Linked DNA regions of Homo sapiens. The protein of the gene in region 3 purifies or fractionates together with the protein of the main gene of each other region. This does not show direct contact. Each region holds a gene or a part of one and is shown on either strand. Other genes may lie near its edges. The genes, in order: LOXL2, LYSMD2, SLAIN2, VRK1, YBX3, NNT and WAC.

Region 1 (3,500 bases), on a different chromosome or scaffold from region 3:
TGGTCACCCAACAGACATGGAACTGCCTCACTCCAAGGCAGATCATCCCTCCATGGGCAGCTCTGGACAGCTCTGACTACAGGAAAGTTAGCCAGTCCTTCCTCAAAGGTAGTGTGCCATGACCAGAAGAATATGATTAGCCTACTCCTCTGCATAGGGTTAAAATAAAATACCTTATGCCCCCACCTAAGCTTCCACCTGCTCATCCTGGTTTGGGGCCCTGCATGTTTCTCCACAAGACACACGTGTGCTCCTTTTAAAATCGTCTCCTCTTTTCTCTGAATTACGGGAGGACCAAGATACACGAGGTCTCTTGCTACATGATTTCACTCGGGAATTCTTAGAGGTAGGCTCCACCAGATACGATGACCAGGACCTTGAGGATTTTAAAACTCATTTAGCATTGCAGCCCTCAAAGCTGACGGGAAAATTATAATTCATCTAGCAAATGTTCCTGTAGTGTTTTGGGGTGCCATTCATTTAATGGAGGGTGGGTGTGTTGAACATCCTGCCCTCACCCCTTCAGACCCGCTCCTTCTCCACCGGCCCCCATGTTCCAGGAGGCTGTCCCACACGGGCTCCCTCAATGGGCTCAGCTCCCTTGCCAGTGGCTTCGAGTTGAAGGGGGCTGGGTTTGCCTAATAGGAGGCACCAGAATGATTCAAAGACGGGAGGAAAGGGAGTCAGGTATTTATTCTCCCTCCCATGTCCCCGCCGTTGCCATGGGTTGGCTCTGAGACCCTCCAGTGAGGGCCACAGCTCCTAAGAGACAGCTCCCTCTGCCAGTCTCCAGTTCTCACCCCCGCAGGCTCCCTTCAAGCCTAGGGTGGTCACAGCCCCCTCTGAGTCGCCAGCCCTAGGGTGTGACACCGGCCTTTGTTAGTTCTGCAGAACTCTGCCGGCATGTCCGTAGTCTTAAAAAACTCTCCTTAAATTAAGTTGGAGTGTGTTCTGTTCCCTGCCAGGAACTCTACTGGAAAAAGCATTCTAGAGAGATGACAAGGCAGTAGGTAAAGGAGGTGGGACCTCCCAGCCCTGCATGGTGGAAATGTAGGAGTGGGGCTGGATTGGCGTCGAGAATGGACGAGCTTTCCATATTAAGCCAAGGGGTATGAAATCGCTGGTTCTCTATGTAGGTCTCCGTAGCCCCACGTTCCCATCCTAACGCATCTCTCCTCTCTTCCAGAAAGCTCCTGCTGCTTCTGTACCCCGCCTGTCCCTCCCAGCTGCGCAGGGCCCCTTCGTGGGATCATCAGCCCGAAGACAGGGATGGAGAGGCCTCTGTGCTCCCACCTCTGCAGCTGCCTGGCTATGCTGGCCCTCCTGTCCCCCCTGAGCCTGGCACAGTATGACAGCTGGCCCCATTACCCCGAGTACTTCCAGCAACCGGCTCCTGAGTATCACCAGCCCCAGGCCCCCGCCAACGTGGCCAAGATTCAGCTGCGCCTGGCTGGGCAGAAGAGGAAGCACAGCGAGGGCCGGGTGGAGGTGTACTATGATGGCCAGTGGGGCACCGTGTGCGATGACGACTTCTCCATCCACGCTGCCCACGTCGTCTGCCGGGAGCTGGGCTACGTGGAGGCCAAGTCCTGGACTGCCAGCTCCTCCTACGGCAAGGGAGAAGGTAAACGCTCTGTGCTTTGGATCTGAGTGCTGTCACCTGGCAAGGCCCGGAGTGGCCTTCCCTGAGGTCAGCCTGGGAGAGGAGGCTGCACGCACTGCGAAGTGTAAATTCTTGGTGATGCCCATCCAGGGACTGGCATCCTTCTGTGCCCACTCAGGCTGCACCCTGCAGGAAGGCGGGGTCGGGGGGCTTGAGGAGGGGCACAGTAAGTGACCAACCATACTGATTTGCCCAAGACTTTCCTGGCTTTAGCACAGAAAGTCTCACATCCTGGGAAAACCTCAGGAAAACCAGGACAGTTGGTGACCCCAGGTAGGGGGTGAAATCGGCCTGTGCTCCTCTCTCCGCCCCATATGCCCTGCCTGGGGGCTGCGTCAGCCCAGAGGAAGTTGCGCTTTACTCCAAATCGTTCCCTGTTAGGAAAGCCTCTTGCTCTTCCTCACAATGGCTCCCACATGCTGGAGCTCCCTGACGCCCCCCACCTTCCTGGCATGTGGAGTTCATCGTTTTCACACTAACCTGCTATTGTGGGCTTGGTCACAATAGGCACACAGATGCTTTGGGTTTTTCACCGTTGGTTAGCCTATTCTTTCCTCCCTTGTGAGGTTCAAATTTATTAGTTTATTTTTAAAAATTGTTTTAAGAGCTGGCCAGGCGCAGTGGCTCATACCTGTAATCCCAGCACTTTGGGAGACGGAGGCGGGATGATCACTTGAGGTCAGGAGTTCGAGACCAGCCTGGCCAACATGGGGAAACCCCATCTCTACTAAAAATACAAAAATTAGCCGGGCATGGTGGCGAGTGTCTGTAGTCCCAGCTACTCAGGAGGCTAAGGCACAAAAATCGCTTGAACCCGGGAGGCGGAGGCTGCAGTGAGCCGTGATCGCGCCACTGCACTCCAGCCTGGGTGACAGAGCGAGACTCCATCTCAAAAAAACAAAAAACAAAACAAAAACCCAAAAAATTGCTTTAACAGCTTTGAGGCAGGACAAAGTTTGAAGCCCTGAACCTAGAGCTCAGTCTGTACTGACCTCTGACACCACACTTTGTAGGAAGACGCATGTCCTCTCCAGCCTCATTTTCCCCATCTGGAAGTTGGGCTAAGAACCCCTGAAACCCTGACAGTGTATGTTCCCAAATAGGAAAGAGATAAGGGTGGAGGGAATTGTTTCTTTTTAAACATTTTTCCAGGAGCTAAGAGTTTCCTATCTCTGGGTCAGCCAGGCAAAGGAAGCTCCCACACCCTCCCGCCCGGCTGAGCTGCAGCCCAGACCTCAGCACAAGTCTGGCTACTGGACTAAAGCAGAGCTGCCTATACTCCTGTCCTGGACTAAAGGGCTAATGCCATGCTGACTGCGTAAGAATCGCCCAAGGGAGCTTAAAAGTACAGAATAGCGCAGACCTCAACCCACCATAATCTAGTTTAAAAGGTCTGGGCTGGAGCCCAGGACTCTGTCTCTTTTGGAAGTCTGCAAAGTGACAGGTTTGGGAGTCATTGAAATTGATAACTGTTATCCTCCCTTCCAACTTTTCTGTTATTCTAGAAATTATAGGAGAAAGGAAGTCCCATCTCATACACATCTCACCTCCATGCAATTGAAAATTTCCTTTTGGGGTAACTGGATCAGGAGACAGCACAGAGTCAAATGTTCTCTGCAGCTTGCTCTGGGCGATGAGAGCCACAGCAGTGAAGTTAGCAAATGCTGGGCTTTAGAACCCACTTCCTGTCTTCTTTAAACAAACGTCCGATACTTCCACATCTCTGTTTATCCGGCTGGCTGAGCGATCCAGGGGTAACCTCAGATTCATGTTTTCCATTCCAGGCTTTCCAACGCTCATTATTTTATAACAAATGCTTTCCAGTGACTGGGTATTT
Region 2 (4,288 bases), on a different chromosome or scaffold from region 3:
TCACAATGAGTAAACCTAATTAATATCTGCAGATATTAGACCAGTGCAGTGGCTCACACCTGTAGGCCCAGCACTTTGGGAGGCTGAGGTGGGTGGATTGCTTGAGCCCAGGAGTTCCAGACCAGCCTGGGCAACATAATGAGACCCCATTTCTACAAAAAATACAAAAATTAGCTGGGCATGTGGCTTGAGCCTGTAGTCCCAACTCCTCAGGAGGCCGAGGTGGGAAGATCACTTGAGCAGCGGCAGCTGAGGCTGCAGTGAGCCATGTTAGTGCCACTGCACTCCAGCCTGGGTAACAGAGTGAGACCCTGTCTCAAAAAAAAAAAAAATCTGAAGATATTAAAACAAGAATATCACTTCACTGTTATGGTAAGTATTATCACTTTCACTGATTCTATATTACCAGTGGAGGAGTCTCTAAAAATTTTATCAACTATAAGCCAGGGCCCAAAGTAATGAGAAATACATGTAATAAACCAGTGGTCCTCAACCAGGGGTAAATTTGCCTTCTAGAGAACATCCGGCAATGCCTGAATAGGGGTGGGAGAGTGCTACTGGCATCTAGTGGGTAGAGGCCAGAGATGCTGCTAAATATTCTACACTGCACAGGACAACCCCGTGCAACAAAGAGTTATCTGGTCTATAACATCAACAGTGCTGAGGTTGGGAAACCCTGTAATGAACTATGTGTCACTATCAATTATAGTTCCTGATTCATTATCCTTGTGTTTAATATCTTAAAATCAAAAGTCTTTATAAAAGCAACGAAAAATCTGATCTACACTTTAATTTTAAAAAGGGGTAATGAGGTTATGAGTAATAGGATCTATATTAGACATAACAGGGATTAGAAAGCATTTGATCAAAGGTGGAAAACTGCAGTAAACAGATGTATAAGAGTTATCTATAATCAACTCAAGTGAAACCACAGACGGCTGTGGGTCACAGAGAGATTGCACGGGAAGACAGCATGGGAAATAACACTCTTCTGCATGTCATAGATTTTTAGGTGCTGTCACTAGCCTAGTAAGGCAAGATGCCTGAAAACCAGATAGAAAAGACTGTCCTCCTTCAGTAGCCAGGATGCTGAGAGAGCTCCTGATAAGACTAAGATAAAAATAAGGATGGATATCAAAAGTAATATCTAGAGGAAAGCAAATGCTTTATCACTGTTAATTCAAGCTGGTCTCAATGAATGATCATACTTGGAAAATATCCTTACCTCTCATCCATCTTCTCATCTGTAAAAAGATTAATTACACCTACCTCCTGGGCTTATTGTGAAAGTTAAATAAGATAAAGATGAAACAAGACAAACGCAATGCCTGCCACACAGGAGGCATTCAGCAGAGGGTAGCTACTGGTATTTCCCAACTTCGCTTTCCTCTGCCTCTGACTCAAACCAGGCCCCATTAAGGCACATAGAGAATTGTAGCTCTATGTTCACATGTATAGAACTCCCAAGAGGGCAGAATGGGGCTCTCCATGGCATGATAGAGTCAATACATGACTGCACAGCAAGGTCCCTTTCAAAATATTTCAAAGATAGAAGGACCTGATAGGTAAACATATACCGGCTTAAATATGCAAAATACATTCTCCTTCATACTGATGCTCCTTCATTCGGTAAAGGGCCAGAAAGAGTTTCACTTTAAGGGAAAGATATAGATAAGATCCTCTTTCTTCCCATTGCTGTCTAAGGTGCTTCAGGAAAGAACACTGAAAACTGATACAGATCCCAAATGTAAAAAGGCCATCACATAGCTCACAGTTAATTATAAGTAATTTTAATGAAACAATTTGTTCCCTCAGGTTTCCATGTTCTTCCCAGAGGTGTAATGCTATACACCCAAGACACACACACTTATAAATTTGTAATAAACGCAGCCCTCCAGCTCACCACAGTTCTTGGCTGCTGCTTAGCGACAGGTGTCACATTCGCGGTTGCCAGTGAGCCCAGAGGGTGTAATTTCACTTCTACATAAAGAAGCATAATCGATAGAACCAGAACCACCCAGTAGGAACAACTGCACCATTCCTGACTCATCACGGAGCTTGTTTTCACAGACAACAAAATTCACCTCAGTTGGGCTTTGCGTAAATATAGAGTAGTGTGATGGGGCCTGCAAATTGGGTGAAGGTGGTTCACGGGGATGCCAAAGCCCTAGTCCTCTTCGGCCTCCCTCACGCGACAGATCTAGTCTGAGCCTGGGCGGGGCACCGGGAACTCGATGCAGCTACCTAGGGAGGGAGCCCTGGCGGTCCGCCCCTCCCGCTGCAGGACCAGCTTTGGCGACCACTGCGGTGGCCAGCAGCGCGCGCTGAGCGAGCCCTGGGAGCCGAGCCGCCCGGGGACGCACGGCCGTCCCTGCGACTCCCCATCCCCCAAACCCCCACCCGCAGTCCCACCCCCACCCCCACCGCACCCCGAGCCGCACCGCCTCCTGCGCGGTAGCTGCCAGCCCGGGCCGCGGCGGCGCGCCCTGCTCACCGTGACACCGTACTTGAGCGCGATGCCCTGCAGCGTGTCGCCCGCGCGGACCCGGTGCTCCACATGGCGCTCGATGACGCCGGCGCCCAGCGGCGCCCGCACGCTGGCGGTGCTGCCGTACGAGCGGGTCTTGGTGCGGGCCAGGCTCAGCGACAGCTCGGCCTCCTCGGACTCGGAGCCGGAGCGCGAGCGCGGCGGCGGCGAGGGGGCCGAGGGCCGCGGCGCGCGGGGGCCGCCTTCCCGCAGGGACAGTGCGGGCGAGGAATCCGCCATGGGTCCTGCCGAGGCCGCCGGGTCGGGGAGCTTGCCAAGGGGGCGGCGCCTCCTCCTCCTCCGCCGCCGCCGCCGCCTCTTCCTCTTCACAGGGGCTGCAGCAGGCCGTTCCGCGGGGGCGGCGGACGGGAAGCCGAGGCGGGGAGCCGCAGGCCGGGCATGGCGGGCGCCTCCTCCTCTGCGTCCTGCCTGCCCCGGGCGCCCGCGGCACACGCACCTGCAAGGTTAAGAGCGAAAGCAGCTCCCGCCGCGGCCTGCCGGTACCGGGAAGACCCTGCAGAGCGAGGGAGCCGGGGAGCGCTGAAGCCCGCGGCCGTTGGGGCTAAGAGAGGGCTATCTGCAGGCGTCCTAGGCCCCAGGTGGACCCCTGCTCCATTGGCGATAGAGCCCTGGCAGAACCCTGCCCTGGCCACGGCGAAAAAAAAAAAAAGCGTTGCTCTGCCTCCTTTATTGATTCCCCAGCAGGAGCCAGCTTGCACAGACCTTCCAGCTCTGCCAATGCCAAGGGTACTTCCCTCCCCCCACCCCAGTGACCTCAAAGTCCACGTCACAGTAAAACTTAAGATCATCAAACACACACAGACAGCTTCTCCAGGTCCATCTCAACAGCCTCAGAGTCCAGTCCTTTCAACATTGCACTAGGAGGGATAGTGCTTCTAAGGCCTAATGGGTGGCCTCAAAATAACCCCCCTAGTTGTTCGGGTTTCACACTTTGTACACTAGTGCCAATTTAAGTCCTGGCTGCCTCGAAAGGCTGGCCACATACAATTCATTCTCCAGGCTCAGTAGTTGGAATTTACTGTCTGCATTCATCTTCTCTTCGTCAGTTTATTCTTTGACACCCTGAAATCGCATCTCCCTGCCCCGTATTGCTATTAATATTATAACCACCAAAGACCTCTTATCTGTACTCTTCATTTGAACACCGTCTACTCTTGAACACCCTTTCAACACACTGTATTATACACAGAGTGGGTACACATTTACTAGCATCTAGTGCCTGGTTTCTGTGTTATTTTGGACAGCTTTCCAAGAAGAGGTACCTTGTAGGAAGGTCCGGAGCCTGGGGGTTTGATTCGTTGGCTGAAGTTTTGGTATGTTGCTGTGCTGGACAGAGGCAAAGCTAATATTGCTCAGGAGAGAAAGGATGGGAGAGGAGCAAGCTTCCACAACACCATCCCACTCAAAACTCCTACAATGGCTCTCTGGGGACAACAGCATTACTAAAAACCTACATTGGCATTCAAGCTATTATTTCTATTTTTATTATTCATGGTCTGACCATACCCCATCTATAACTCATTCTGTATACTCTACATATTCCTGCCAAACAGAGCCTCTGAAACTGGCCTCCTTGTTCCTACTTTCATACCTTGCATGTTATTCCCTCCAATGGTAACACTCTTCCAGTACCCTCTATTACATTGTTTAAATCTTTAAGGTCTGTCTCAAATGATACATCCTCCATGAGATTTTTCCTAATTCTTCCCAATGGTCCCTTTTTCCCACCTGCCCAACTGT
Region 3 (3,500 bases):
GACAACCATGGGGACAGTTTCTAACCTCTGTGCCTTTTATTATTATTTCTTCTTCTTCTTCTTCCTCTTCCTCCTCTTCCTCCCTCCTTCCTCCTTCTTTCTCCTTCCTCCTTCTTTCTCCTTCCTTCTCCCTCTTCTTCTTTTTTTTTTTTCTTGTTTATTGCACTGGCTAGAATTAGTGGTAAGAGCGTATGTTCTTGTCTTGTTCCTGGTCTTAGGGGAGATGCATTCAATCTTTCTTCATTAAGTATAATGTTAACTGTAGGGTTTTTGTAGATGTTCTTTATGAGGTTGAGGAAATTTTCCCTATTTCTGTTTTTCGGAGAACTTTTTTCATGACTGTGTTGAATTTTGTCAGATGCTTTTTTTGAGTCCGCTGTTACAATTCTGTGATTTTTCTTCATCCTGTTACTGTGGATTACACTGATTGATTTTCAAATATTGAACCAACCTTGCATCTTGGAATAAATCCTCCTTAGTCATGGCATATAAATCTATTTATATATTGCTGGATTCTATTTTCTAATATTTTTTTAAGGATTTTTACATCTATATTTGTAAACAATATTGATCCGAAGTTTTCTTTTTTGATACTGTCCTTTTCTAGTTTTGGTATCTCAGTAATACTGGCTTCATAAAATGAATTGGGACATGTTCTTTCCTATTTTGTGACGGAGATTATGTTGAATTTGTGTTCATTCTTAAACATTTGGTGGAATTTCCCAAGGTTGCTCCCAACCTCCAACAAACATTTGTTCTGCTGCTTGTTACCATAAATTAGATATGACTTTCCTCAAATTTCTTTATAACACAACATTCTACAGTGTGTGTGTGTGTATGTACACACGGACTGTTTTGTGTCTGGCACTCATTTCATTCAGCAAAATTTTTGATATTCATCTTTGTTCTATACATCAGTAGTTTACTCCTTTTTACTGCTGAGCGGTATTCTGTTGCGTGGATATGCTACAAATTGTTTATCCATTCATGTGTTGATGGACATTTGAGCTTTTTTCAGTCTTTGGCTGTTACAAAGTTGTAGTCAAGTCTTTGTGTGGACATAAGCTTTTTTCTGTTTTCCTTTTTTTTTTTGAGACAGAGTCTCGCTCTGTTGCCCAGGCTGGAATGCAGTACCGCGATCCCCGCTTATTGCAACCTCCGCCTCCTGGGTTCAAGCAGTTCTCCTGCCTCAGCCTCCCAAGTAGCTGGGACTACAAGCATGCACCACCACCCCCAACTAATTTTTGTATTTTTAGTAGAGATGGGTTTTTCACCATGTTGGCCAGGCAGGTCCCGAACTCCTGACCTCAGGTGATCCGCCCGCCTCGGACTCCCAAAGTGCTGGGATTACAGGTGTGAGTTACCACGCCTGATCTTCTTTTTTCTTTTTGAAGCAGAGTCTTGCTCTGTCACCCAGGCCGGAGTGCAGTGGCATCATCTCGGCTCACTGCAGCCTCTGCATCTCTGGTTCAGGCAGTTCTCCTGCTTCAGTTTTGAGTAGTTGGGATTATGGGTGCATGTCACCATGCCCAGCTGCCTTTTTGTTTGTTTTTTCATCATGTTGTGCTTTGTGAAGCACAGCAATGGAAGCACTTTTTAAAAATGATTTTTAGTTTCTAAATTTTTAGTTACAGTGTCAGTAATATGGGATTTGGACATAGAGCCTCCAGATACTTGATACATGTTTACGTGAATGTTTCTTTTCAGGGGAAATACATTTCAAATTCTAGACAACAGTTGGGTAGTCAACCTGTTTTTCACCTCTAGAATGTTTGTTCATATGTGGCCCACATTAGTTGCTACTGTGAGACAGAATCCTGCAGTGCCTTTTCTCTTCTGGTATTATGGATTCCAAGCTGGCCTATTTAAAATACTGTTGTCAAAGACAGTTGTAATCCTCTAAGTACTTGGTCATTTAGAACTCACAGTTACTTTTTTTCTTTTAGTAGCCCAGGAATAGCTTTTATTGTTTGCATTGCTGTGAAGTTTCCTGAATACACATGTACTAGTGCCCAATCATCAGTTGTAATTTAAAGCAATGGTTTCATATATACAGATTTCCACTCAAAAATTGGTTTTTCTTTGCCATCCCACAGTACCTTCTCCAGGCAAATTCCGTTCCCCTGCAGCACCATCTCCTTTGGCTCTTCGGCAACCAGTGAAAGCATTTAGTAACCATGGCTCTGGTTCTCCTGGTAGCCAAGAAATAACACAGCTCACACAAACCACCTCCTCACCTGGGCCTCCTATGGTTCAGAGCACAGTCTCAGCAAATCCTCCCAGCAATATCAACAGCGCTACTCTAACCAGACCTGCAGGGACAACTGCAATGAGAAGTGGCTTGCCCAGACCCAGTGCCCCTTCTGCTGGGGGCATACCAGTGCCTCGCAGCAAACTTGCACAGCCTGTTCGCAGGTAAGTGGCAGATGTTCTGTTTCAGCATTCTTGAGTGCCTGAAAGTGGATAGACTGGAATGAATTAGCTTCATCCGTATGTTTGATAGTAAACAGAAAGTCATGGTGGATTCCCACCAGAGTTTTAGTACCATTTGAATAAAACTTTACTACATTGTTTTTAAGAAATCCTCATTTGGGACTTTTACCAGTTTGGTTCAGATTAAATTTGTCCAGTTGCCTAACGTGATTAAGCATCTCAGAGGACCCCTAGAAAAAAAATTGTTAGAGCCTCTCAATTTGATTGTGATATTCATTCATTTCGAATATAATTATATTCAATAAAGATGATAAAGGTATATTAGAATATAGAGTGATATTTAAGATAAAACTTCTAGCTACCAAGTCTGAGTATAATCTATAAGCATGGTTTTCAAACCCTTATTCTATAATTCAGAATTATCTGTGAGATTTATATAAATGTAGGGTGTAAGTTTTACCTTCAGAGAGTCTAACTTAGTAGATCTGTTATGAGGCCCAGAATCTGTGGGTGTGCTAGGTATTTTGTTGTTGTTTTTTGTTTTGTTTTTGTTTTTGTTTTGTTTTTGTTTTGAGATGGGGTCTTGCTTTGTCTCCCAGGCTGGAGTGCGGTGGTGCAATCTTGGCTCACTGCAGCCTTGACCTCCCAGGCTCAAGCAATCCTGTCACCTCAGCACCCCCTGTAGCTGGGACTACAGGCGCACACCACCATGCCTGGCTAATTTTTGTAGAGATGGGGTTTTACCATGTTGCCCAGGCTTGTCTGGAGCTCCTGAGTTCAAGTGATCTGCTTGCCTCAGCCTCCCAGAATGCTGGGATTACAGTTGCTGGTTTTTTTGTTTGTTTGTTGTTTGTTTGCGTAATCTTCAGATGATTCTGAATCAGACAGGTTGGGAATGATGCATCTGTAACCTTTCAAGAATGGGATTACCACCATCAGTAAACTTTGGTGTCAAATATAATTAAACTGGAAATATTTATCACTGTGCTAAATAAGTAAATGCTTGCTTTGTTTAATCTTCATAATAATATTAAATGAGTAGGTATTCTTATTTCTATTTTTCAAAA
Region 4 (2,364 bases), on a different chromosome or scaffold from region 3:
GGAATGAATCATGAAATTGTTCATAAATGTGTTAAAATTACAAGCTTCTGTTCCCAAGGCAACTAAAAACATTTCAGATCTTAAACTTTCTGATCACTGAAACTCTGAAGTGCTTGGTTTACTGTATAAATATTACATGCTATGAAAGTGAAACTTTTAAGAAAAATAAACTTCTGTGAATGAACAATAGGCTCTATCTATTAATATCTAGTTCATAGGACTTCCGTAGATGAAGCCAGTCTTTACACAATCTTTAATCACACCACCATTTGATCATCTGTCACTTGTTTTCTTGTCATACGGCTTGCATACTGACATAATTCTTATGTAATCTTTCATATATGTAGATTTTCTCTCTCATGGATACGCTTCCTCCACTTTTTATTTCATATTCCTTTCCTGTCTTTGTACCTCCTGTCTCATACAGCAGGTGTTTAATAAAAGATTTTGGGAACAGAACAAAATCAATACAAACCAAACCTTACAGCCACAACATACTGTGTGTTTGCATCAAACAAAAGAGAGTTTTATTTTAAGCTTTGCATTTCCTTAAAAGTGAGGACTTTGTCAAACATTTTTATCCACTCTGAGAAATGTACAATGATTAGAAAAGTGCGTGTCATAATAATTTTCATATATATGTACTCCAAAACATCACAAACACACGGCTTTGGGATAACTTAAGGAGTATAACCTGAAGATTTTCAAATTTCATAAATTAGCCTTTAATGAATTGTACAAAATATTTTTATAAAAAAAGTTTATGTTTTCTGAACACATGAGTATTTAATCATTACTTCCACCTCGCAAGACTCACAGGAAAATAAAACAGTTCAAATAGAAAAGGAGAAAAAAGTCAAAAGAAAACAAAGAAAAGGAAATCTGGTTCACAGCATCTGAATTACTTCTGGACTCTCTTTCTGGTTCTTGAACCTTGAAGAAAAATCAAAGAAACTGAAATCACTAGTCAATAATTTACAAAAGCAAAAGAACAGAAATATAAATATCCCTAAATATAGTTATTAACATTTTAAAATCAAATCGACTCTCGTGATTTGCAAAGATAAAACTGACATACAAAGGTATGATTGCTAATACTCTGAAAATCTTAGAAAATTGGGTCATTTTTTAATATGTCAAAAAATATGCTGACAAAACCTACCTTCTCTTAAGCCATATAAAAATACTGACTGATAAAACGTATCTAATTTTTACTAATACTGAAATATTTCTCTCCAAAATTTAAATTTGTTGTAAAATTTAAAACATTATCTCCAAATATAAACCTTAGCAATATAGATAAGCATTCACTCCTAAGGTGGAAGCGATGAGGTCACACATGTTATGAAAAGCAAAGCAATAAGTTGCTTTTTAAAGACTATTAGCTACACCCTTGAGGCAGGAGAGCACTGGGATATACTGAAATGGAAAGTCTTTTCCGCTAGGAATTATACAGGTCCCAAATGAGTAGCCTCCTGGAAAAGGATCATATGTGATACTGGTCTAAGTCCTTTATGACAGTACCTATCTAACTATTCTGGTTTGGAATAAATCAATGACTCTCTGCTGGGGGCATGGGAATTCTGCCTCACCAAGACATTTCACCCCACCTACTACTCCTACTCCACCTCTGGGTACAGCAGTTAGCCTGATCACGGCTGCCTAGTGCTGGTGAAAGAAGCAGGGCCATTTCTTTCCCACTGCCGCATGCTACGCTCTGCCAGGAAAGAGCAGGGGCACCAGAGTCAGGGACAGCATGGTGCTCATAATTAATCAATGACTGCACGAAAAAAAACAAAAGATCAATACTTCTTTTCTGAAAAGTACGAAACATTCTTTGAATGTGGAACAAAATTCTACCATGTGTATCTAAAGGTTTTCTGATCATGGGTTTTAGTTACTTAACATGAAGGTCAGTTTCAAAACTAGCATTTTTAATTTTTCCAAGTTATAGTTTCTATTCAATCATACAGTTCAATGAAAGCAAATTTCAAGCTTATATGAATATCCTTTTTTCTGCCACTCATAATACATACCCTATATACTGTACTATGATTGATTCTAAAATTTGAGTTTTTTTCTTAAATTTCTGTAACACGGCCATCTATTAAAAATATCCCACAGTAGATTTTTAGGTTTTTATTTCAAGAAATTTTATTTTTATTATTATTATTTTTTTTTTTGAGAGGGAGTCTCGCTTTGTTGCCAGGCTAGAGTGCAGTGACACGATCTTGGCTCAGGCAACCTCCGCCTCCTGGGTTCAAGTGATTCTCCTGCCTCAGCCTCCAGAGTAGCTGAGATTACAGGTGCCTGTCACCACGCCCAGGTAATTTTTGTATTTTAGTAGGACTTAGACTTTCACCA
Region 5 (3,500 bases), on a different chromosome or scaffold from region 3:
ATGTTGGAGGAGGAGGAGGAAGAGGAGGCAGAGAAGGACGGAAGGGTGAGGATTGCTGAAGAGAAGTCTCAGTTGCAATTTTACCTGTATTCTGTTGGGATGGGGTAAGACCCGTGAGCGACGGTCAAAGGTCTGTCCCACGTGGTAAGGCGGGAACCGCCGCTGCCGGTACTGAGGGCGATACTGGGGGCGGCGCAGCTGATTCCGGGCCCCAGAGAACTGCCTATCAGTGGCAGGGGGGTCAAATCCTTCACTGCTGCCGCTCCCTTCCTCCTCCTCCTCCCCAGCGTACTAGCGAAGCAAAGAAACAGAGATTCAGAAGAAGTTTTAGCAAGGAAAGAACCAAAGAACACCATTTAGGATGAATATCACCAAAATAAAATCTCCCCAAAGCAATATAATCCTTTCCATTATACAGACAAAATGCATTTAACCCAGATTATCATGTGATTGCCTGGGATAAACTACATTAAGATTAGAGTAGATCTGTGCAGATAAAATACCAAGAAGCAGAAAAGCAAGAGCAATCAATCTACAATCAATTTAATAGTCATCTCATTAGAACTCGTATCAGCTAACCAACCACCCGAAGAGTATCTGCAAGGTTTATAATTTTTGCTCCATCAAATGCGTGTCTCCCAGCATTTACCATCCACTGAGGCAATGTCAGGGAAAAGCCAAAAAAGAATACATTTTATGATGTTACCAACATATTTGACCCAAGTGGTATTCTTCCTACAAGTCTGTAAAGTGTGGATGGGATTTCTGAAAACTTCCAGGGGGTCAGCGAGGTCAAACTATTGCCATAATATTACTAAGATGCTATTTGCCTTTCCCAGGCATTCTCTCAGAAGTATATGGTGGGGTCTCCCAAAGGCTACAATGACATGTGGTCTCTCAGCAGACTGAATGCAGAAACAGATGTGAGAATCCAGCTATCTTCTATTAAACCATACATCAGAGATCTGCAAAAGTATAAAGCAATACCACTCTTTTCAATTTAAATATTTTTTTTCCATAAAAACTGTTATTTTCATGAACATATAGTTATTTTTAATCAATTAACATTTTAAGTTTATTTTACTTTCTAATATAATATTAATATAAATAAACATTGACAAAAACTCTAGAATCCTCAATAACATGTAAGCATATAAACAGATCCCAAAATCAGGAAGTTTGAGAACCACTGACCTAAGGCATGACTCCCTTTATATGTTTAGGAGTAAAGCTTTAATCATACTTTGATGGTAGTAAGCCCTAATCCTGGAGGTTTCTAAATAATAGATCTTATTAATATTCACAAAGGAATTTACCGATTCATTTTATATTTTTCTTCTATTTAAATTATATCATATACTACCATTTTACATTTTAAAAAACCAAACATCCTACAAAGACTGTGATTTCAAGTCTTACTTTAAAGGGGATATGCAAATGTCTTTAATGGGAAGTAACTAGTTTTTAAAAATGAATAAATAAAAAAAGCAAAATAATGACCCATTACTTTTTTTTACAGGAGTGTATTTAAGCTTTGGACCCTTCCAGAACAAGTCCACATGTGCAACCAAACTCCCCCTCCAAAAAAGCCTCAACTAGTCTAACTTCAAAAAAAATCAAGTCATTCTACTCTTCATAAAACCTCTACCAAAGATGAGATTCACAATTATGTAAACGTTTATTTGCACAGAAAATGCTTACCAAAATATTAAGTGTGAGACAACATAAACTGTTTTTCTTCTTGGGCTTATCTTCCTCTTTTGCATTTCACACAATCAAATCTTTAAGAGTTTTACAAAGCATAATAATGGCACCAGCAATGCTGAACACACTCTTTTGAGAGATACTGAACAAGTTGTTGGGACTTAGATATTACAACAAAAAAGCTCATTTATGTATACTTTAAGAGTTTTAACAATTTTGTTTCTTAAGCGTTTTAACAATTTTGTTTCTAAATATCTTTTATATGCATGACTTTGGAATTTTCAGGTTTTGGACAGGAAAAGTCTTTAAGAAAAATTTTTCACTGAATGTTTTTCTACCACTTTTGCTTTTGAATTAACCTGGGAGTCAAAATAATCACAGTTAGCGCTCTGTGACTCTGATGAACTTCAAAGAGAACATGATGTAGGAAATGCTACAGCAGCTCATTCCTAGCTATCCCCCTCATAGCTTATTAAAAACCAAATAAGATAAGCAAAAACAAAGAAACAAGTGGGAAGTCCTAAGGAATCTGACAGAATTAATTTGGGCAGGATGTGATGATGGCAGAATAAGGAGGAAAAGCATTTAGGTAAACAGAAAGATATAAAGCTATCAAAACATAAAGATAGGTCATTCTCAATCTGCAGATATTTAATTCTGATGAGTTTTTCTTTGGATGAGACAGGCAGTCACAATCCTGTGCTGACAAACATTCGGAGTTTTCTTCAATGTGCCAATACCTGGTTCTAATTCTAGAAACACCAAGAATGATTCAAATCTAGTAAGTTTCTCATGACCACAAATATACTGGGTCCGTTTTGGGTGCCTTGAGAATACTCCTATAAACTGAGCCTCCCAAGAAAGCTCCAGCCAGATTTGTGACAAACTCTTTCCCCTGCATTGAAACCAACCTAAAGAACTAAAAATCCACAGAATCACTTATTGCTTCTTTACTTTGAAATAATGGAAAAATGCTATGCTAAATAAAACAGCCTCTTAACCAAGGCAAATTCGTTAATAGTTCTGTGGCCTGTACTTTTATTGCCTGTTCACAAGTTATTTCTCACTCTTTCACCAACCAAATTTTGATTTTCTTAGAGGTCAACAGTGTCGGCACCAAAGAATGAACAACAAGGTTAAGTCAATGATGGAAATCCATTCCCCTTTGCCAGTGAATGTCTGTGACTAGGTTCTGGCCAGAAAAAAGAGCCAAATGAAGAGAAACCTTGTTAAAAAAAACCTCAGCACTGTCTCCCTTAAGTCTTCCTGTTAAAAGATAATTAAATGTCTATTACTTGTAGCCAAATATATCCTAACTGATACAACTTCTGAATGGCAAGTGTCTAATGAGACCAGCGGCTCTGGAAAAGTTCTGAGCGCTAAAATTTCCCCTTAAGAGTACCGTGTATACTGCTCCAGTGATGGGTGCACCAAAATCTCAGAAATCACCACTAAAGAACTTATTCATGTAACTAATCACCACCGGTTTCCCAAAAACCTATGGAAATCAATAATACACATTTTAAAAAATAAGATAAAAATTTCCTCTAAAGAAAAAATAAAAATCACTTAAATCATTTGTCTCCAGGAGAAGACAAGGCATTTATCTGCTCCAAGTACATACACTTAATTCCATGCATGAACAATTTCTCAATCACTGGTTAAGTAACAGAGACAACGTACATTCCGGGGAGGGCCACGGCGCCTTCCATAGTAGCCACGTCTGTAACGGCGCCGATCTGCAGCGTAACGACTCCCTTCCACAGGAACTCCATCCGGGCCAGTCACATTGGCAG
Region 6 (3,500 bases), on a different chromosome or scaffold from region 3:
ATTTTTTAAAGTGCTACAATTTTTCTGTTTTAAGCACATCTTTATCACCTAGGAACAAATATAATTTAAAGTAACATTTTGCAACCTCAAATTTTTTTTTTTGAGATGGAGTCTCACTCTGTTGACCAGGCTAGGGTGCAGTGACACGATCTTGGCTCACTGCAATCTCCGCCTCCCAGGTTCAAGCTATTCTCCTGCCTCAGCCCCCCGAGTGGCTGGGATTATAGGCTCGCGCCACTATGCTGGGCTAATTTTTGTATTTTTAGTAGAGAGGGGGGTTTCATCGTGTTGGCCAGGCTGGTCTCGAACTCCTGACCTCAGGTGATCTACCCGCCTTGACCTCCCAAAGTGCTGGGATCACAGGTGTGAGCCACCGTGCCCAGCCAAAATTTAAAGTCATTCTATTACTCAAGCCAGTTCCATTAGAGAGGTGGGGGAAAAAACACTAAATATATTCAGGAAGAAAACTTGCTATCAGAATGCAAAACTATTTCTGCATGACTAAAAGGAAAAAAAAGCCATTCAAAAAGCTTGAGAATGTGAAAGATCAAAGATTGGTATCTTTTCCTAGTAGGTTGTTACATTTGTAAAACCCTATAATAAATTATAAAAGAAAAAAATACCATATCAACAGGCACCAGGTTTCTTGGACACATTAAAGAATTGTTAGCTACAAAATAGCATCAAATGAGTCTCACACATGAGTGATGTGCTAGGCTTTCAGTTTCCAGTAACAAACCCTGGCTGGGATAAGGCAAAAGACTAAAATTTTATCTAAAATTATACTAATTTATAGATGTTACGGTGATAGCTCTAACCCAACTTCAAAACTATGCATTCAATAACTTTCCAGTTAACTTGTAGCAAGACATCATTTTGTTTGTTTGTTTTGGGGATCTGGGGGTTGTTCTTTTATCAAGAGTTTCTAAAAATTACAGATGGGCAAAATAACTAATTTTCCTGCAAAAAGAGCATTTACGGTCAGAGTGAAACATTTTTTGAAGGCACAATTATGTCTATTTTATATGGATTTATATTTGCTTTGTATGTCTCCATTGAAAATAGTACTGAGACCTTTCACTGACATCATACCTGCAATGTTGACAGAGGATATGAATGCAGCAAGAGCAGCAAGGCCCTGAGAAGTTGTGGAAGGATACAAATGTCCTCCCATCAGTGCCAACCCACCAACTGCAGTCAGCCCTAGAAAGAAAGCATTAACATGGTTAATAGTGATAGTGACACCACCAAATCAAATATCATAGCTGAAGTACCTCACATACATAGATTCATAGAGGGTAAAGTTCTCAATATTAAAAAACAAGGCAGCTTTCTTACACCCTCATTAAAATGAAATAAACAATTTTGCTTATGCAGACTGTTGACAACACATCTTCACATCATTCTCACTGAAATTACTACTGTGGGAAAAGGGTTAACAAAACTTTTTCTCCTTCTGCATTGGAATTGGACTTTCTTTTAACTTTCTAGCGATGTTCCTCTAATACAGATATAAATCCACCAGTGTTATAGACAACATTGCTTATGGTTAAAAAGTGACCCTGGTAGATAATTTGCATGTAAACTGGAAGAAAGTATTCATGAACTGTAAATGCCTGCTGGGGATGCCTAGCTTTGGGTTTTCCTGACTACAGCACCTCTTGGAGCTAGACATGTTCCCTGCAGAGATCCTCGAAGCTGTGCCTATGGCAATGTTATAAAAGATGACTATTGGCCCTGAGGCTTTCAAGCCAGGACAGCTCCTATGCTTGTCCAATGTAGGACTCATTCTCTCATATCTGACCCATTGCTAGGGGACAAAGAGAATAGATCCTGGGCAACCACATGGACTGCTGCATGAACTGCTGAAAAGACCGGCACCAAAGAGAAATGCCTGATGCCACCTCACTGGAAAGCTGTGTTTTCCTGTCCCATAGCTTCATGGTGAACCTGATGCCACATGGGGCCTATTGTAGCCTTGCTAGGCTGAATGCTGAGTTGAATCCAAGGAGAGCCCTATAGGATGTTGCAGCTATGATTCTGTGGAACACTGGTTTTCAAATTTTATCAGTGGAATCCTTTTCTTTAAAAAAAAAAAAAAAGGATCAAACTTGGAAGAAATAACAGTGGCTCTGCACTGCTTGAAATGGGAGCAGCCCAAAGAGCTGACACACTCCCACGGCCTCTTACTCTGCAGGCCCATATCCCATACCCTCTCAGAGTCTGGGAGCCCTTAGATCACCAAAGCAGATGACTCAGATGCCAAGCAAAACAACTTGAAAACACACTTTATAAACGGCATTGATAGTCCTCCTAGAGCTGAGTAACCCTATGAAAACCTGAGATGAGGAAAAACAAGAGAGGAACAAACCTGAGATTGCATTTGTCACAGACATCAGTGGTGAGTGGAGAGCAGGGGTCACTCCCCAGACGGTATGATACCCCACAATGCCAGCCAAGCCAAAAGTGGTCACCATCTGAGAAAAGGCTAGATTGGGAGCCGCAATGCCCAAACCCAGTATCCCTGTGAGACCTAGAGAAAGAGAGTAAAGAGTGTGTTTGAGCTGACATCCAGTTATCTCAGTAAGATTAAAAGCACATACATAAATATGTGGAATAGCCAATGCTTTTAAATTCCACTCCCTTGCCAGTAATGAGCAGATTTTTTAGACATTTGACAGTTGAGAAGTGGGGGGATGGAGGAATACTGTGGACAAAACCCAACTTTCTGACCACCCCCCCAAAATAAGCTATAAAGATCTAGTAATATTTATGAGTCACACTAATAACAATTTGCACATTTTCCTCTGTGTAGTTTGTCCTCTTCCCTGTTTTAACTTTTATTAACAATGCCACATGTGTTTATATAAGCATTTTTATTCCCGATTACAGGCCTACAGAGGATCTACCAAAGCATTTTCTACTTGGGCAAGACACAACCTTTATAAGACAAGACTTTTATGAAGGCAATTTTATGTCACTCTCAGATTTGGCTGAGGAATAGGGGTTTTAAAAGAGTAGGAAGAATTTCATTCACTCCAGCACCTCCCCAAAACATATGGCTTCCACCCACCCGGGACACAAATTTTGCAATTGCTCCTGAATCTGGACTGGACTGTTGGCCAGGGCAGTCAGCTCCAGCCTCAACACCAAGTCAGCAAACAGGATTTTACAAACAAAAGGAAAAAAAATACAAATTAAATTAAGAATGTGCAGAATACAAACAGCTCTGAACATACATCTTTAATTATCGCCTTCCTTGATAGCAAACATGTGGACAGTTGTTCTGCAACAGAAGAAAGTGTTACCTAGTGGTCAGTAAAAAGAAAATGACAGTGGGTGACCAGGGAACTAGAAGTTAACTTTCCTGAATAAGGTACCTTTTTCCTTGATGTAAACTATTACTTTGGAAGTGGCACCACTGGAATATCTAGGGATTGACATTAATTTTACATTAAATCATTCAATATGACTGTAGTTTTAATTTATTTTCCTACCCA
Region 7 (3,500 bases), on a different chromosome or scaffold from region 3:
TTTTCAAATTATTTTTGTAGAGATGGGGTCTTGCTATATTGCCCAGGGCCTAATTCAATCCTCCTGCCTTGGCCTCCTAAGTGCTGTAATTATAGCTGTGAGCCACCGCGCCCAGCCTTCTTAAAGGAGTTGAAATGCTCAGTTTACAAGTGACTATAAAACCAATACTACCACTTATTTCACTTTTAACCACTATTTACTATACTCTTAAAATGCCACCCTGAAGACAAGTTCTAAGCTCCAAAAATAACATCTCTTTTGCCAAAACTCACATTTTAATTCTTTCCTCCTTAAAATACTGGCAAATGATAAGGAACTGCATAATAAACTAACAACTGTAACTTGGAATTTTAAAAATCAATCTAAATTGACCCTAAAACATGCAATGATCAATGGCCAAGGTAGGGAAGGGATGAACAAACGGGAAGACTTAAAAGCTGACCAACCACCTCTTTCAAGTTATATTTCAATGCATTTTTATTTTTGGGCTTCTGCTTAATATCTTACAAAGAATTATTTGGCATTAAAAAGTCTGAAACAGCCCACTGTTTCAAAACTACTCAAAAGAAATTCCCCCTACATTTACCATTTAGACCAGCAATTTTCTAACTGCACCTATGGAGCCAACCATGTAAGATTCTGCTGGGACAAATACAGGCAATATAAGCTTAGTAAAATGGGTCCCTGTATTCACAAACACCTAGGTTTCAAATTCTGACTCTACCACAAAAACTTAACTGAGAGTTTGATTTTCTCATCTATTAAATAAAGCAAGTGATTCTCACGATGTGAAAGCTAAACATACATTAAGTTCTTAGCACAGAAACTGCCTCATTTTTGAAATACAAATATGGAAAAGTCACTGGAAAACATGTTCATTCATGTCTTTTGGAGTTTGAAAATTCTACAAATATTAAGACTCAGTATATCCTCTTTATCTCACTCTCCATGTGACAAATCCCAAAACCATTAGGGAACAGACTCAGATGGTTTATTAAAGTAGCACAGATTCAAAGCCCCCCTCTATCCCTCAGTGAACTGAGAAATTCTAGGCTGCATCTACTATCATACCTGTCATTCATTCCACCACTACACCTCATTCTCAGAGGGCTTTTTCTATAACAGATTCTAAAATGTTATTGACTTTCCAAAAGTAAGTAGTTTCTTTTCCGAATGTCCCTCAAAGGTGACATACCTTTGGCTGTGATGAAACAGGAGGAGTACTGATCAAAGGTTTGATAGGGACTGTGTTAGTTTGAGGTGTGCTTATTCTTGGAGAAACATATGATCTTGGGGATGACGCATCAGATGTTAAAGACATCGGAGACTGATTAGATGGCTGGGCTGTAAAAGAGGGAAGCAATTAATTTTAAAGAAAAACAAAACAAAACAAAAAACTAAAGTCCTTTGTAATATATGTGGCAAAGATATTTGTATTACTCTAAACCCCCCCACCCCCATATTACCCAGAGAACACTTATTGGAATAAATCAGAATCTGACCTTCTCACTGGGCCACACTGACTAAGTGAGCTGTGTGTTCAGAGGTAAGCACACCCAGTGTGGCCCACTCTCCTTTATGTGGCTGGAACAGGAAGCTAGGCCTGAACCTAATCTCACATGGAAGGCCTCCTCACCATCCTTATTTCTTCTTTCTTATTCTACATTTAGGCCCAGGTATCCCACGCAGTCTCCTGCTCATGAGGCTAGCCAGAGGGTTGCAAGAGTCTTTGCACCATTATACTTCCATTCCAGACAAGGCATTCCTGCTGTTTATCAGCTTTCTGACAAAGTGACCCTTTCACTTCCCATTTGCTCCTATGTGTATCTCTCTCCATTTGGATACCTTCATGAAGAGGGATATCTAATTCAAGGCAGAAAATGAGCATTTCCATATTATCCAGTCAAAAAACATCTAACGTCAATCTGAACCAAACTTCAACTCTTCAAATACATGCAATGTTTCACAAAGATATATGGCACATCATAGTTTACTTTCAGCTTTGGCATAAAAAAACTCATTAATAACAAAGTCTGAATTAAATACTGTCTTAAATAATTACAGATTTGATGGCAATACCTTAAGACAAATGTCAAAGCTTGCTTCATCTAAAAAGAAAGGAAATAAAAATACTACTGTATATGCCAGTGTTACAAAAAAAACAAAATTATTGTAGCTAATCTCTTAAAAAACTAAAAAAAAAAATGAAAGAAAAAACTAAATACAAAAAAGGGCTATTAATTCCAAAACAAAATCAAGATGCCATTCTAGAGATATCTAAGATGAGTAAGAATACCTTGTGTAGAGAGCTGAGCAGCTTGAGAAATCAGAGACGTTATGTTGAAAGCAGATGGTCCAGCAGTAAGAAACTTATGAATTATAGACTGCAGTGAGGCTTGTGTCACAGCTGCTGTAAGAACTAAAAACATATTATTTCATACATTCATATAAAAACAAGAGGCTTATGTGGCATTAGTAACAACCTGACAAGGAAGAGAACTCACAAGAAACTGGAATATTTCAACCTAGAACTCTCAAAATAAAAGCCTACTAGATAGGAGTAATACAATGGGTCCCAAATTTGAAATGATCTGAGGCAGAGAAAAAGAAACTTAATGGGTTTACAATAAAGGTAAACCAACAGAGTTTCTTTTACACTAATTAAGATGATCACCTGAACAAAGTCTCTCTACAAAATTTAACGAGTGTTCACAGGAACTTCCAATTATGTCAGAAACCTATTCATATGTGAGTGTTCAGTATGTTATATGGAATTAACTGGATAAACAACTGCTATTTCATGTGATTGCCCTTTTAGACAAGCTGGCCATTCAAATCCTATATCAAGATCCACCCTAATAAATCTAAAAATGGATACAAAAAAGGGAGTATTGGCCGGACATGGTAGCTCACACCCAGCACTTTGGGAGGCTGAGGCAGGTGGATCGCCTAAGGTTAGGAGTTCAAGAGCAGCCTGCCCAACATAGTGAAACCCTGTCTCTACTAAAAATACAAAAAATTAGCTGGGCATAGTGGCAGGTGCCTGTAATCCCAGCTACTAGGGAGGCTGAGGCAGGAGAATCGCTTGAACCTGGGAGGCAGAGGTTGCAGTGAGCCGGGATTGCACCACTGCACTCCAGCCTGGGCAACAAGAGCAAAAACTCCATCTCAAAAAAAAAAAAAAAAAAAAAGTATTTAGGAATACCATGTATTTTTGATGTGTAAGATATTTTATTATTGACATTAACTATTATTTCTTCAACTATTTATTTTGGAGACAGGGTTGTGCAATCACAGCTTACCATAGCCTTCACCTTCCAGGCTTAAGTTATTCTCCCACCTCAGCCTCCCAAGTAGCTGGAACTACAGGCGTTCACCACCACACCTGGCTAAGTTTTTGTATTTTTAGTAGAGATGGGGTTCACCATGTTGCCCAGGCTGGTCTGGGCTTAAGTGGCCCACCAGCCTCAGCAAGTGCTGGAATTACAGGCATGAGCCAC

Evidence for each region.
Region 1: the proteins of SLAIN2 (region 3) and LOXL2 purify together in Homo sapiens (co-immunoprecipitation; one study listed by IntAct). This does not show direct contact.
Region 2: the proteins of SLAIN2 (region 3) and LYSMD2 purify together in Homo sapiens (affinity purification with mass spectrometry; one large-scale study listed by BioGRID and IntAct). This does not show direct contact.
Region 4: the proteins of SLAIN2 (region 3) and VRK1 purify together in Homo sapiens (affinity purification with mass spectrometry; one large-scale study listed by BioGRID and IntAct). This does not show direct contact.
Region 5: the proteins of SLAIN2 (region 3) and YBX3 purify together in Homo sapiens (affinity purification with mass spectrometry; one large-scale study listed by BioGRID and IntAct). This does not show direct contact.
Region 6: the proteins of SLAIN2 (region 3) and NNT purify together in Homo sapiens (affinity purification with mass spectrometry; one large-scale study listed by BioGRID and IntAct). This does not show direct contact.
Region 7: the proteins of SLAIN2 (region 3) and WAC purify together in Homo sapiens (affinity purification with mass spectrometry; one large-scale study listed by BioGRID and IntAct). This does not show direct contact.

Annotation. Positions count from the first base shown.
Region 1 is NC_000008.11:23,366,121-23,369,620, reverse strand, and holds part of LOXL2 (lysyl oxidase homolog 2 precursor), read left to right. Parts: intron 1-1,186; 5' UTR 1,187-1,269; coding exon 1,270-1,624; intron 1,625-3,495; exon of another isoform or gene 3,496-3,500. UniProt on the Homo sapiens protein: Mediates the post-translational oxidative deamination of lysine residues on target proteins leading to the formation of deaminated lysine (allysine).
Region 2 is NC_000015.10:51,734,856-51,739,143, forward strand, and holds the start of LYSMD2 (lysM and putative peptidoglycan-binding domain-containing protein 2), read right to left. Parts: upstream 2,801-4,288; 5' UTR 2,768-2,800; coding exon 2,495-2,767; intron 2,208-2,494; exon of another isoform or gene 2,085-2,207; intron 1-2,084.
Region 3 is NC_000004.12:48,418,029-48,421,528, forward strand, and holds part of SLAIN2 (SLAIN motif-containing protein 2), read left to right. Parts: intron 1-2,096; coding exon 2,097-2,415; intron 2,416-3,500.
Region 4 is NC_000014.9:96,879,746-96,882,109, reverse strand, and holds the end of VRK1 (serine/threonine-protein kinase VRK1), read right to left. Parts: intron 934-2,364; coding exon 902-933; 3' UTR 501-901; downstream 1-500. UniProt on the Homo sapiens protein: Serine/threonine kinase involved in the regulation of key cellular processes including the cell cycle, nuclear condensation, transcription regulation, and DNA damage response.
Region 5 is NC_000012.12:10,709,824-10,713,323, forward strand, and holds part of YBX3 (Y-box-binding protein 3), read right to left. Parts: coding exon 3,388-3,500; intron 966-3,387; coding exon of another isoform or gene 936-965; exon of another isoform or gene 528-935; intron 292-527; coding exon 85-291; intron 1-84. UniProt on the Homo sapiens protein: Binds to the GM-CSF promoter. Seems to act as a repressor. Also binds to full-length mRNA and to short RNA sequences containing the consensus site 5'-UCCAUCA-3'. May have a role in translation repression.
Region 6 is NC_000005.10:43,648,180-43,651,679, reverse strand, and holds part of NNT (NAD(P) transhydrogenase, mitochondrial), read right to left. Parts: exon of another isoform or gene 3,498-3,500; intron 2,534-3,497; coding exon 2,372-2,533; intron 1,204-2,371; coding exon 1,093-1,203; intron 1-1,092. UniProt on the Homo sapiens protein: The transhydrogenation between NADH and NADP is coupled to respiration and ATP hydrolysis and functions as a proton pump across the membrane. May play a role in reactive oxygen species (ROS) detoxification in the adrenal gland.
Region 7 is NC_000010.11:28,609,618-28,613,117, reverse strand, and holds part of WAC (WW domain-containing adapter protein with coiled-coil), read right to left. Parts: intron 2,420-3,500; coding exon 2,297-2,419; intron 1,864-2,296; exon of another isoform or gene 1,637-1,863; intron 1,345-1,636; coding exon 1,196-1,344; intron 1-1,195.